Regions from separate parts of the Homo sapiens genome. Here region 2 is linked to region 1. The links come from fine-mapping of genetic effects on gene expression. A gene starts in region 1. The other region holds a variant in brackets. All regions are shown on one strand. Distances are from middle to middle.

Evidence for each region.
Region 2: its variant is fine-mapped to the expression of ADGRA2 in whole blood (INTERVAL, PIP 0.99).

The regions. Positions count from the first base shown.
Region 1 is chr8:37,793,558-37,798,925 of GRCh38, forward strand. ADGRA2 (adhesion G protein-coupled receptor A2) reads left to right here and starts at 3,326. Exons shown (of 19, transcript NM_032777.10): 1 at 3,326-3,977. The coding sequence starts at 3,712. RefSeq lists enhancers at 1,756-2,321, 2,322-2,887 and silencers at 3,151-3,390, 3,401-3,570, 3,851-3,940.
Region 2 is chr8:37,818,738-37,824,105 of GRCh38, forward strand. The region is part of intron 2 of ADGRA2 (adhesion G protein-coupled receptor A2); the gene reads left to right. Among named protein-coding and RNA genes, the nearest start is that of ADGRA2, 25 kb to the left of the region's middle. RefSeq lists an enhancer at 3,070-3,643. The variant G/T (reference allele first, on the strand shown) is at 2,554.

The DNA.
Region 1 (5,368 bases):
GGCAAACTTCTTTCAAGAGGGAGACGGCAGATATGAGCCCCTAGACTCTTAGGGGAATAAGGTCTCATAGAGTCCGGTAGATTATATTCTTGCCCAGATTAAACAGACTCTTTCGGAAAGTCCCCTCTCCCTTGCTCTGGTCGGAATTAATTCAGTCTTGTCTCTGTGATCGCCACTGAAGAGCTTATCACCTCTGATCAAGGTGTGTTTAATTGGTCAGGCTCCCTAGCAGATTTTTTGAGGTCTGGAACTAAATTCGAGTCATTCTCCTATCTCAAACAAACCTCAAAACAAAAAGATTTTGATGTGGGCAATTCATTCACTCCTCACTGCACCTCTGAGGAGAGGTCTGCAGGAAGCTTCCCAGGGGAAAGTCTCCCTGTGGCTCAGAGAAGAAAGCACTTAAAAAGGAACCATGGCCGGGCACGGTATACTAGAAATAAGAAGAAAAAAGGATTAAAACATGCTCATGGCAGGTTGCGGTGGCTCACTCCTATAATCCCAGAACTTTGGGAGGCCAAGGCGAGTGGATCACCTGAGGTCAGGAGTTTGAGACCAGCCTGGCCAATATGGTGAAACCCTGTCTCTCCTAAAAATACAAAAATTAGCCAGGCATGGTGGCAGGCGCCTGTAATCCCAGCTACTTGGGAGGCTGTGACAGGAGAATCACTTGAACCCAGGAGGTAGAGGTTGCAGTGAGCTGAGATTGTGCCACTGCACTCCAGCATGGGTGACAGAGCTAGACTCCATCACAAACAAACAAACAAACAAACAGACAAACATGCTCATGGCCAGGCATGGTGGCTCACACCTGTAATCCCAGCACTTTGGGAGGCCAAGTCAGGCAGATTGCTGGAGTCCAGGAGTTTGAGACCAGCCTGGGCAACATGGCGAGATCCCCATCTCTACAAAACATTAAAAAAAATTAGTTGCATGCAATAACAAACCTGTAGTTCCAGCTACTTGGGAGGCGGAGGTGGGAGGATTGAACCCAGGAGATCGAGGCTGCCGTGTTCCTGCCACTGCACTCCAGCCTGGGTGACAGAGAGAGACCTTGTCTCACACATACACAAAAAAAGGAATCAGAAAGTAAGTTCCTACCCTTGGACTCTAGTCTCAGTGACTCAGTTTCTTCATCCATACTTGCAAAATAAGAAAGTAACCTCCACTTCATCACCTCCCTGGGTGGGTAAGAAGTCAAATGTGGTGACCCTCAGGACAGTCCAGTGTTTTGTAGATGTCTCCATCAGACATTTCATTCCTAGTGGTGGGGAAGCCTCGCCTCATTAAATGTCCTTTGGCCTCTGTTCAGCCTCCAGGAGTGGGTGTTCCAGTAGAATTCTTCTTTAGACTTTGAGTGTCTTCATTTAGCCAAAGGAAATCACAGAAAAGCTATATGACCCAGGCCAGAGATCTCAGAGTCTTCCTTGCCTGTGAGCAGGAGGGCTGCACAGCCCTGCCTATGGGCTGTGGCTCTGCTGTCAGCTCTTTCCTGAGGAATGCAGCCTGGGCCACCGCCTGTGAGGGCTCCTGCTGGGGGAGTCCATTCCCCTTCTCCCTTCCTCCATTTGCAATCACTATTTATTTATCTTTGGAAGTTCAAGGAACCAGAGAGCCTGCAACTGGGGGAGATCTGTGGAGCCAGGGAGGGAAAGTGAAGAAGCCAACATCTAGGCCCCTGCCTGCCGCCAACGCCAACGGGCAAGAGAAGAAAGCCATTCCCTGCATAGTCAGGGTAGACTTGGCTGACAGGCACAGGGGCCCTAGAAAAGGCACCACCGCACATCAGCAGGGCTAAGCTCACTAAAGAATGTGGCATTCACCTTGGGGACCGCTTGGGTGGTAGAGTGAAGGAGGGGGAACGGGAGTCCTGCCCCATCCCGGCAGCTCTATTAAGCAACAGAAAGGTGAGCTTCTGTGGGGAAACAGAGGAAGCAGACCCCTGGGCTGCACTTCTTACTGCCTGTCCCCAGCCCTGGTTCCGGTGTACTGCAGGCTGTTTTTTTTTTAATTAATTTATTTATTTATTGAGACGGAGTCTCACTTTGTCACCAGGCTGCAGTGCAGTGGCACGCTCTCAGCTCACTGCAACCTCCGCCTCCTGGGTTCAAGCAATTCTCGTGCCTCAGCCTCCCAAGTAGCTGGGATTACAGGCGCCCACCACGACGCCCGGATAATTTTTGTATATTTAGTACAGACAGGGTTTCATCATTTTGGCCAGGTGGATCTCAAACTCCTCACCTCAAGTGATCCGCCCGCCTCGGCCTCGAAAAGTGCTGGGATTACAGGTGTCAGCCACCGCGCCCGGCCTGCAGGCAGCTTTATACCCACCACTAGTTGTCAAGGTCACCCCTGCCACCACCAGTCCTCTGCCTTTGGAAACCATGTGCCCCTCCCCCCCACCACACTCTCTTATTCTAATGCCACGATTTACTGGGCATCTAATGCCACTCTATAAACTGGGGAGCAGGCAGAGCCCCATTTCAACCCCAGAGATCTGCTACCCCAGCAAGCTAGGGGCTGTGTCCAAGGTCAGACAGTAATGAGAGGCAGAGCCGAGTCTGGAATAGGGGTCTCCAGACTCACTGCGCAGTGCTCTTTCCACACCCTGCTGCAAAGCCCTGCTCCTTCTCATCTACTTTTCCCTTGTCCCACTCACTGTCCCCGAAACACACACACACACACACACACACACACACACAGCGTTGTGGAAAATGTAGGAGGCCCAGTCTAGCCTCTAGCCTTGTCTGCCTTGGCCTTTGACCTCTCCTTGGCCGAATGACATGCACCCCCCGCTGAGCGAGGTCACCGCAGCGGAGGAGGGTCTGCTGCCTCCTTGTCTCGGCTGCCATCCTCCTGCGGCTGCCTCCACCGGAGCTGGAAGGAGAGTGAGAGCCGACTTCCAGACTGATCATCGTGTCAGGGGCCAAAGGAAACCTCGGAGCCTTCCACCAAGTTCAACCCAAAACAGGGCGCCCCAGACGTCTCTGTCCAAGCCCGCGGGTCCAGGAGGGCCCCAGCAGCCTGGAGACGCAAGCTGCACCGGCACGGACGAGGGAAATTTTGTGGAAGGTGGTGGTGGTCGGCTCAGAGGTCTGAGATGGGTTGCGGAAAGGAAGGGTCCTGGCCCGGGGCGCGGGGACAAGCGGGAGAGGAGTGTTGGTGCAGGGCGGGCGCGGGGACGCAGGGTCCTCGAACCAGCTGGCCCGCCCCCACTCGGCAGAGGGTCTAGGCCTGGCCGCGTGTCGGTCGGCGCTAGGGCCCCGCGGAAGGCCCGGGCGGGCGGGGACCGGCGGCGGGAGCGGCGCGGCGCGGAGCTGCCTCCATCCATGGCACGGAGCGGCGGCGGCGGCGGCAGCAGGAGCCCGGCGCGATCCGCTAGGTCCCAGCCCAGCGCCCAGCGAGCAGGCGACGCGGAGGGGCCGGGCCTCCAGTGTCCCGAGGGCCGGGCGCTGAGACTCCGGCCGCGCAGCTGGGAGCTGCCCGCGCTGCGCTGACAGCCGCGCCGACGTCCTCCCCGCCGGGGCGCTCGCAGGACATGCCCCCGGGGCGCGGCGGCGGGGACCCCGGGGCTCGCCTCCGCCCAGGGCCCCCCTCCACGCCCTCGGGAGCCCCGGGCCCCCGCTGAGCACTCCTCCCGCACGCCTGGGTCCCTCCGGCCGGCGCGCAGCCCGGCCCCAGCGCTGTGGGTCCCCGCGGGGCGATGGGTTGATGGGCGCCGGGGGACGCAGGATGCGGGGGGCGCCCGCGCGCCTGCTGCTGCCGCTGCTGCCGTGGCTCCTGCTGCTCCTGGCGCCCGAGGCTCGGGGCGCGCCCGGCTGCCCGCTATCCATCCGCAGCTGCAAGTGCTCGGGGGAGCGGCCCAAGGGGCTGAGCGGCGGCGTCCCTGGCCCGGCTCGGCGGAGGGTGGTGTGCAGCGGCGGGGACCTCCCGGAGCCTCCCGAGCCCGGCCTTCTGCCTAACGGCACCGTTACCCTGTGAGTACCCTACCAGGCCAGTTCCGTCCGAGCCGGGACTGGGGACGAAGGGAGGCGAGACGGGAGGGGTGGGAGCAGGGGGAAGGGGGCTATCCCCCCACTTCAGAGATTTCTGGACAGGCCTGGGTTCAGGCCCCCAGAGGGGAAGATTGGAGGAGCAGGGGAGAGACTGGGGCTCCAGGAGCGTGGAGGCGGGAAGGGGCTGCGGGGGACAGGCGCACCCCAGAGAAAGGCACCGCAGGCGCCCACTCACCTGCACAGGTGAAGTGGAGAGCACGCCTGCAGGGCACCCACGCCCCGGATTTCCAGCCTGGACTAGGGTTGCGGACTTTGGGGACCTGAGAAGGGTGAGAGCGGGGAATGCTCAGGAAAGATCGACGCTCGTGGCCCAGGAGGGGGCTGTGGTCCTAACCACTACGGTCGCGTCCCGGACTGGGCTGGAGGAGTCTCCGGATTTACCTGGCTGGCCTTGTCCCTTCAATTGGGGTCATCCCATCCTTGCCCCCTGGCCTGCCAGCGCCGCTTCCAGCCGGTCTCCTTAGGGCAAGGGGAGGCTGGGCTCAGAAAAGTCGGCCCTTGGAATACCGGCGCTCCTGGGCTGCAGGAGACCCTGGCGTCCCCATCCCTCTAGAGGCCCCTCTCCCACGGCGCCGTTTGTGCAGTGAGCTCTGTGCTGGGTCCCGCGTCCTTGCCTCTCCTTTGCCTCTCCTGGAAGTAACTCGAGCTTTGGCTGTTTCTCCATTGACTTCGCGCAAAGATTGCGAAGAAAGAAACGCGGCTGGGGAAGCGGGGTTCCCTCACCGCAGCCCACCCGGGCCTCCTTCCGCGACTTCCCTCTTAGTCAGGGCCTCAGTACGCCTTTGCTTTGCTGGCAGCGAGCGCTGCAGCGCCGCAGCCCGACCCCAAGCCTCCTACAAGGGGGTCGCAAGTCCCAGCAGCCGCGCGAGCATTGGCGACCCCTCCCCACCGCAGAGATTTCCTGCGCCGACCACGTGCTCGCAGCTCCACGCACGCCGTGGATTTGAGGGTCGGGCCCCCGCGGCCGCCGCTTCCTTTCCTGTCCCAAATCCAGCCTAAGAGCCGCTTCCCTTTCCCTGTCCTCCTGACCCCAGTGGCAACCGTTTCTCCACCGCCCCTTGCCCGCAGTCGGGGCTGGCCCAGTCTTTTCGATTGTGTCCAGAACAATACAGTAACGCCTCTGGTTGGGTGAGTTCAGAGGCTGCCCGCTTCCTGACAGGACACAACTGGTCAGCCTCTGACGCTGGCCGCCCGGCCTGCATTTTCCCCGGCCCGGGTGTGTGTGTGCATGTGTGTGCCTTAAGGGTGGAGGCGGTGTGTCTGCTCGCTGCCGCCTCCCTGCTGCTCAGGGTAAGGCTGTGGCCAGGGAAGGC
Region 2 (5,368 bases), 25 kb after region 1:
ATAGCAAATAGGTGTGTGGTGTGTCTGGAGGCCTAAGTGCAGCAGAGAAAAACAAGGCAGGGTAAGGAGGTGAGAAAGCAAGAGGGCCAGGGGTGCTATTTTATGTAGTGAGGTCAGGAAGGCCTTGCTGATGACATGCCTGGGCCTGAGACCTGAAGGGACGAGGAAGGAAGCCTGGAGCTCTCAGGAAGGATGAAGAGAGCAGGCATTGCCAAGGCCCCTGGGTTCAGGGAATGCCTGGGGAGTCTGAGAAATAGAAGGGCAGTGTGAGCTGGCAAAGCGAGCCAGGGGGAGGTGGCAGGAGACAGGTAGGATGTGATGCCGGGGTGGCTACTGGGGTGGCCTTCGATTCCTCATTGTCAGAAGAGCTAGGGTAGATGGGGTGATTTGGGAGGTGCATTATGGATCTAAAATTCTATGATCCTTGGATGTGTGTGGGACACCCACAGCGCCCATAAGGAGAAGATAATCACAGGACCCAGTGACAGGGCCAGGCTTTCCAGAGGAGGGGCCATCTGGGCAGAAGGGTGTGCCGTGGGCAGCAGGACAGGGATGGTGCTTGTTCAGGGCTGGAGGAGCTCAGGGTCTCCAACGTGGTCACTGATCACTGCTGTATTTATATATGCAAATACTTACTATTATTATTATTATTTGAGATGGAGTCTCGCTCTGTCACCAGGCTAAAGTGCAGTGGCACGATCTCCAGTGCAACCTCTGCCTCCTGGGTTTTAAGCGATTCTCCTGCCTCAGCTTCCCAAGTAACTGGGATTACAGGCACACGCCACCATGCCCAGCTAATTTTTGTATTTTTAGTAGAGACGGTGTTTCATGTTGCCCAGGATGAGGATGGTCTCGATCTCTTCACCTTGTGATCCGCCCTCCTTGGCCTTCCAAAGTGCTGGGATTACAGGCATGAGCCATCGCACCCGGCCTTTTTCTTTTTTCTTTTTTGAGACAGAGTCTCACTCTGTCACCCAGTCTGGAGTGCAGTGGCACAATCTTGGCTCACTGCAACCTCCACCTCCCAGGTTCAAGTGATTCTCCTGCCTCAGACTCCTGAATAGCTGGGATTACAGGTACGTGCCACCACACCTGGCTAATTTTTGTATTTTTAGTAGAGATGGGGTTTCAGCATGTTGGCCAGGCTGGTCTCGAACTCCTGACCTCAAGTGATCTGCCCACCTCAGCCTCCCAAAGTGCTGGGATTACAGGCATGAGCCACCACGTCTGGCCATGAAGACATTTTTTAAAAAAGGAATTGACATGATTGTGGGGGCTGGCAGACCCCAAATCTGTAGGGCAGGCCAGCAGTCTGAGAAGTCAGACAGGAGCAGACGCTGCAGTCTTGGGGCAGAATTTCTTCTCTAGGAAGCCTCAGTGTCTGCTTTTAAGGCCTTCAGCTGATTGGATGAGGCCCACCCACATCATACAGGAGCATCTCCTTCACATGAGGTCAGCTAATGGCAGATGTCAACCACATCTACAAAATACCTGCACAGCGACATCTAGATTCATGTGTGATTAAACCACTGGGTACTATAGCCTTTGTCAAGCTGACACAAAACTAACCATCACAACCACTATCCCCCCAGAAGGAGAGGGCCCTTGGGTAATACAGATGCTGGGCCTCCCTCCTGGAGATTCTAATTCATCTGTCCCATGGGGCCTGGGAATTTTTTACATGCTATGCAGGCAATTCTCATGCTCATCCAGGGTTAGGTGCCAGTGGGCAAGATGACCCCTAGACTGAGGGCCTATTCATCAGGAATAAGACTCCATGGGCTGGCATGTAGTTGGTGCTCAGGAAACACTGATCCCTCTGTCCTGTCAAACTCAGATGTCTAGGCTTGGGCGGCTGAGGCCATGGCAACTTAACATCCCACAGTCTATGAGCAGCACGTCCAGTGGGAGGGTTGAGGCCCAGTCTGTTAACTGAAACGGAAGCTCCAGGCTGTTGCAGAATGTGTTTGCATGGCCTCCTTGGCTGAGAGCCCCTTGAGCCTTTGCAAATGGGCTGTGTGTACGTGAGGGGGTCGCCTTGTTGTACAGGAGCTGGGAGTAGATCTGCGTGGTATCTGTTTTGCAATGCAGGGTCCTGAGGCCAGCATGGGCAGGATGGGCAAGGAAGGGGCCACAGAGCGGATGCCCAGTGGGAATGTGTCAGAGATGATCATCCAGAGAGGTTGGGGGTAGGGGTGGAGATGGGGGGGCACACACCTTTATCAGCCAGATAGGATAGACAGGAAGACCTGAAACAGAGCCCTGCAGAAACACCTCCTGGGCCGCCCAGGGAGTGTACAGAAGACCCACCTTGCACGTCTGTGCCCTCTCTCTCTCCCACCACCCTCCAGCATGGCCAAGACTGTTTCTTGCCCAAAGGAAAGACTTTTGGGGCAGAGAGAAGCTGATGAAAGAGCGCTGGACTCCATTTGGTGTGAAAAGCAGCCTGGAGTGGAATCATCCCTCCTTCTTTTACCTTCCAGTGCCTCTCCCAGCCCTGGGTTACTCACCTGGAAAATAGGGCTATGAGGAATTGTTACAGGAACAGAGGAA[G/T]AGTTCCTTACACAGAACGCATGGCAGCACAGGCTTCCAGTATATGGCAGGCAGTTCCCTTCCCCTCTGAAGATTTCCCAGTTGCTAGATGTTACCCTGGCCGCCTGTCATTTGCATAGATTTGCCTACAGTTCCCAGCCTTGGGCAGGCAACTGTGTAGCTGAAATATACATGCTCCAAGTACAGCTGGTGATTCATTCCCCGGGATCCCCTGCCAAGCACATGCAATGGGGACTAGGCCACAGGAAGACTTTTCTGGGGGGCTCTGAGGGTGTCAGTCACAGTAAGATGCCTCTAGACCAGGGACCAAGCCGGCCAGGGCAGACAGCCCCAAGAGAGGCCAAGGGAGCGAGACTGCGTGCCTGCCAGCACATGGGTCTGTGTGGACACTGGCCCCCAGAGGCTCGTGCACGGCTAAAGGAAAGAGTCTGGGAAGGGGAGCCCGGTCAGCCCCGGGATGATTTGTCATTACTTAATGAGATTAATGAGCCCCGGGGGCTGGTATGCAGGGGTGCTGAGGCGCTCATTAGAAGCAGATGCTCATGGGAACGAACGAAAGTGGCGGCCTGGGGGTGGAGTGAGGCTTGCCCAACGCCAGGTGGCTTCCATTAGTCTGTGGGTGGGGCCGAGGGTGAGGCTGCTGGGCTCTGTCCCTCCTCCCCTCCCCGTCCCCAACAACACTGGGGAGGAATGCCGCAGACAAGCTGCCTGGACTCCTGCACCACTGAGGCCCAGGAGGGAAGGCTGATGTGTTCAGGGACAGCCCTCTTGTTTGCCATGGTAGCCCCCATGCCTGGCATGGGGTACATGCTCAATAAATAACCTGTGGATTGTTATCAGAGACAAGAGGCACCTGGAGGATGGGACTAGAACCTCTCCCTTCCTCCCCTAGACACTTCTATACCTGCAGGGTGTCCTGGCCCACTTCTCAGCCAGCCCCCACTTTCTAGTGAACCCTGGAAGTCTTGTAGGCCCAGGGAAGGCTGCTTTGTGGCCTCCGAACCTATAATTTGGTTTTCAAACCCACAAGCAGGGAGGTCTGTGGGGCCAGAGGGAGCTGACTCTCTGCGGCCCCACCCTGCCTGTATGTGGGTACACACACACACACACACACACACAGTCACATGCTCTTTAACTCACATGCTCTTTAACGGCTCTAGTGAGATATAATTTACGTGCCATAAAAGTTCACCCGTTTAAAAAAAAGTGTGCAATCCAATGGTTTCTAGTATATTTTACAGAATTGTGTAATCACCATAATCTAATTTTAGAACATTTTCATCATCCGCAAAAGAAACCTTGAATCATTAACAGTCACTCCTCATTCCTCCACCCCCTCTTCCCCAGGCCCAAGCAACCACTAATCTGCTTTCTGTCTATAGATCTATAAATCTGCCTGTTCTGGACATTTTATATAAATGAAATCATGCAATAGGTAATCTTTCATAACTCGATTCTTTCAGCATGGTACTTTCAGGGTTCACCCATGTTATAGCACGTATCAGCACTTCATTCCTTTTAATGGCCAGATAATATTCCATTGTATGACTACACCACATTTTGTTTATCCCTTCATCTCTTGAATATTTGGGTGGATACTACTTTTTTTTTTTTTTTTTGAGATGGAGTCTCACTCTGTTGCCCAGTCTGGAGTGCAGTGGTGCGATCTCGGCTTGCTACAACCTCCTCCTCCCGAGTTCAAGCGATTCTCCTGCCTCAGCCTCCTGAGTACCTGGGATTACAGGCGCGCACTACCACACCCGGCTAATTTTTGTATTTTTAAGTAGTGACGGGGTTTCACCATGTTGGTCAGGCTGGTCTCGAACTCCTGACCTTGTGATCTGCCTGCCTTGGCCTCCCAGAGTGCTGGGATTACAGGTGTGAACCACCATGCCCAACCTTTTTTTTTTTTTTTTTTTGACAGACAGGGTCTCACTCTGGCGCCAGGCTAGAGTGCTAGAGTGCAGTGGCATGATCACGGCTCACTGCAGCCTTGACTTCCTGGGCTCAAGCAATTCTCCTGTCTCAGCCTCCTGAATAGCTGGGACTTACAGGCACGCACCACCATGCCTGGCCAATTTTCTTTTTTGGTAGAGATAGGGGTCTCACTGTGTTGCTCAGGCTGGTCTTGAACTCCTGGTCTCAAGTGAGCCTCCTACTTCAGCCTCCCAAAGTGTTGGGATTACAGGCTTGAGCTACCACACGTGGCCAGTTTCTACTTTTTGCTACTATGCACAATGCTGCTGTGAACATTCAGCTATGGGTTCTTGTGTGGATGTATCTGTATTTCTCTTGGATATATACCTAGGAGTGGAATTTCTGGGTCATATGGTAACCCGAACTGTGAAACTGTTTTCCAAAGTGTCTGCACCATTTTACATTCCCACCAGTAATGTGTAAGGGTTCCAGTTCTCCACATCGTCATCAACACTTGCTGGAGTCTCTCTTTTTTATTACAGCTGTCTTAGTAGGTGTCAAGTGGCTTTGATTTGCATTTCCCTTACTGCTGGTGATGTTGAGCATCTTTGTATGGGCTTATTGGCCATTTGTGTGTCTTCTTGGATAAAATGTCTATTCAGATCCTTTGCCCATTTTTTTCAACTGGGTTATTTGTCTTTCTGCTATTGAGTTGTAAGAGTCCTGTATATATTCTAGATAGACATCCCTTATCAGATCTGATTTGCAAATATTTTCTCTCATTCTGTGGTTCTCTTTCACTTTCTTGATGATATCCTTTAAGATGCAATTTTTTTTTTTCGAGATGGAGTTTCACTCTTGCTGCCCAAGCTGGAGTGCAATGGCATGGTCTCAGCTC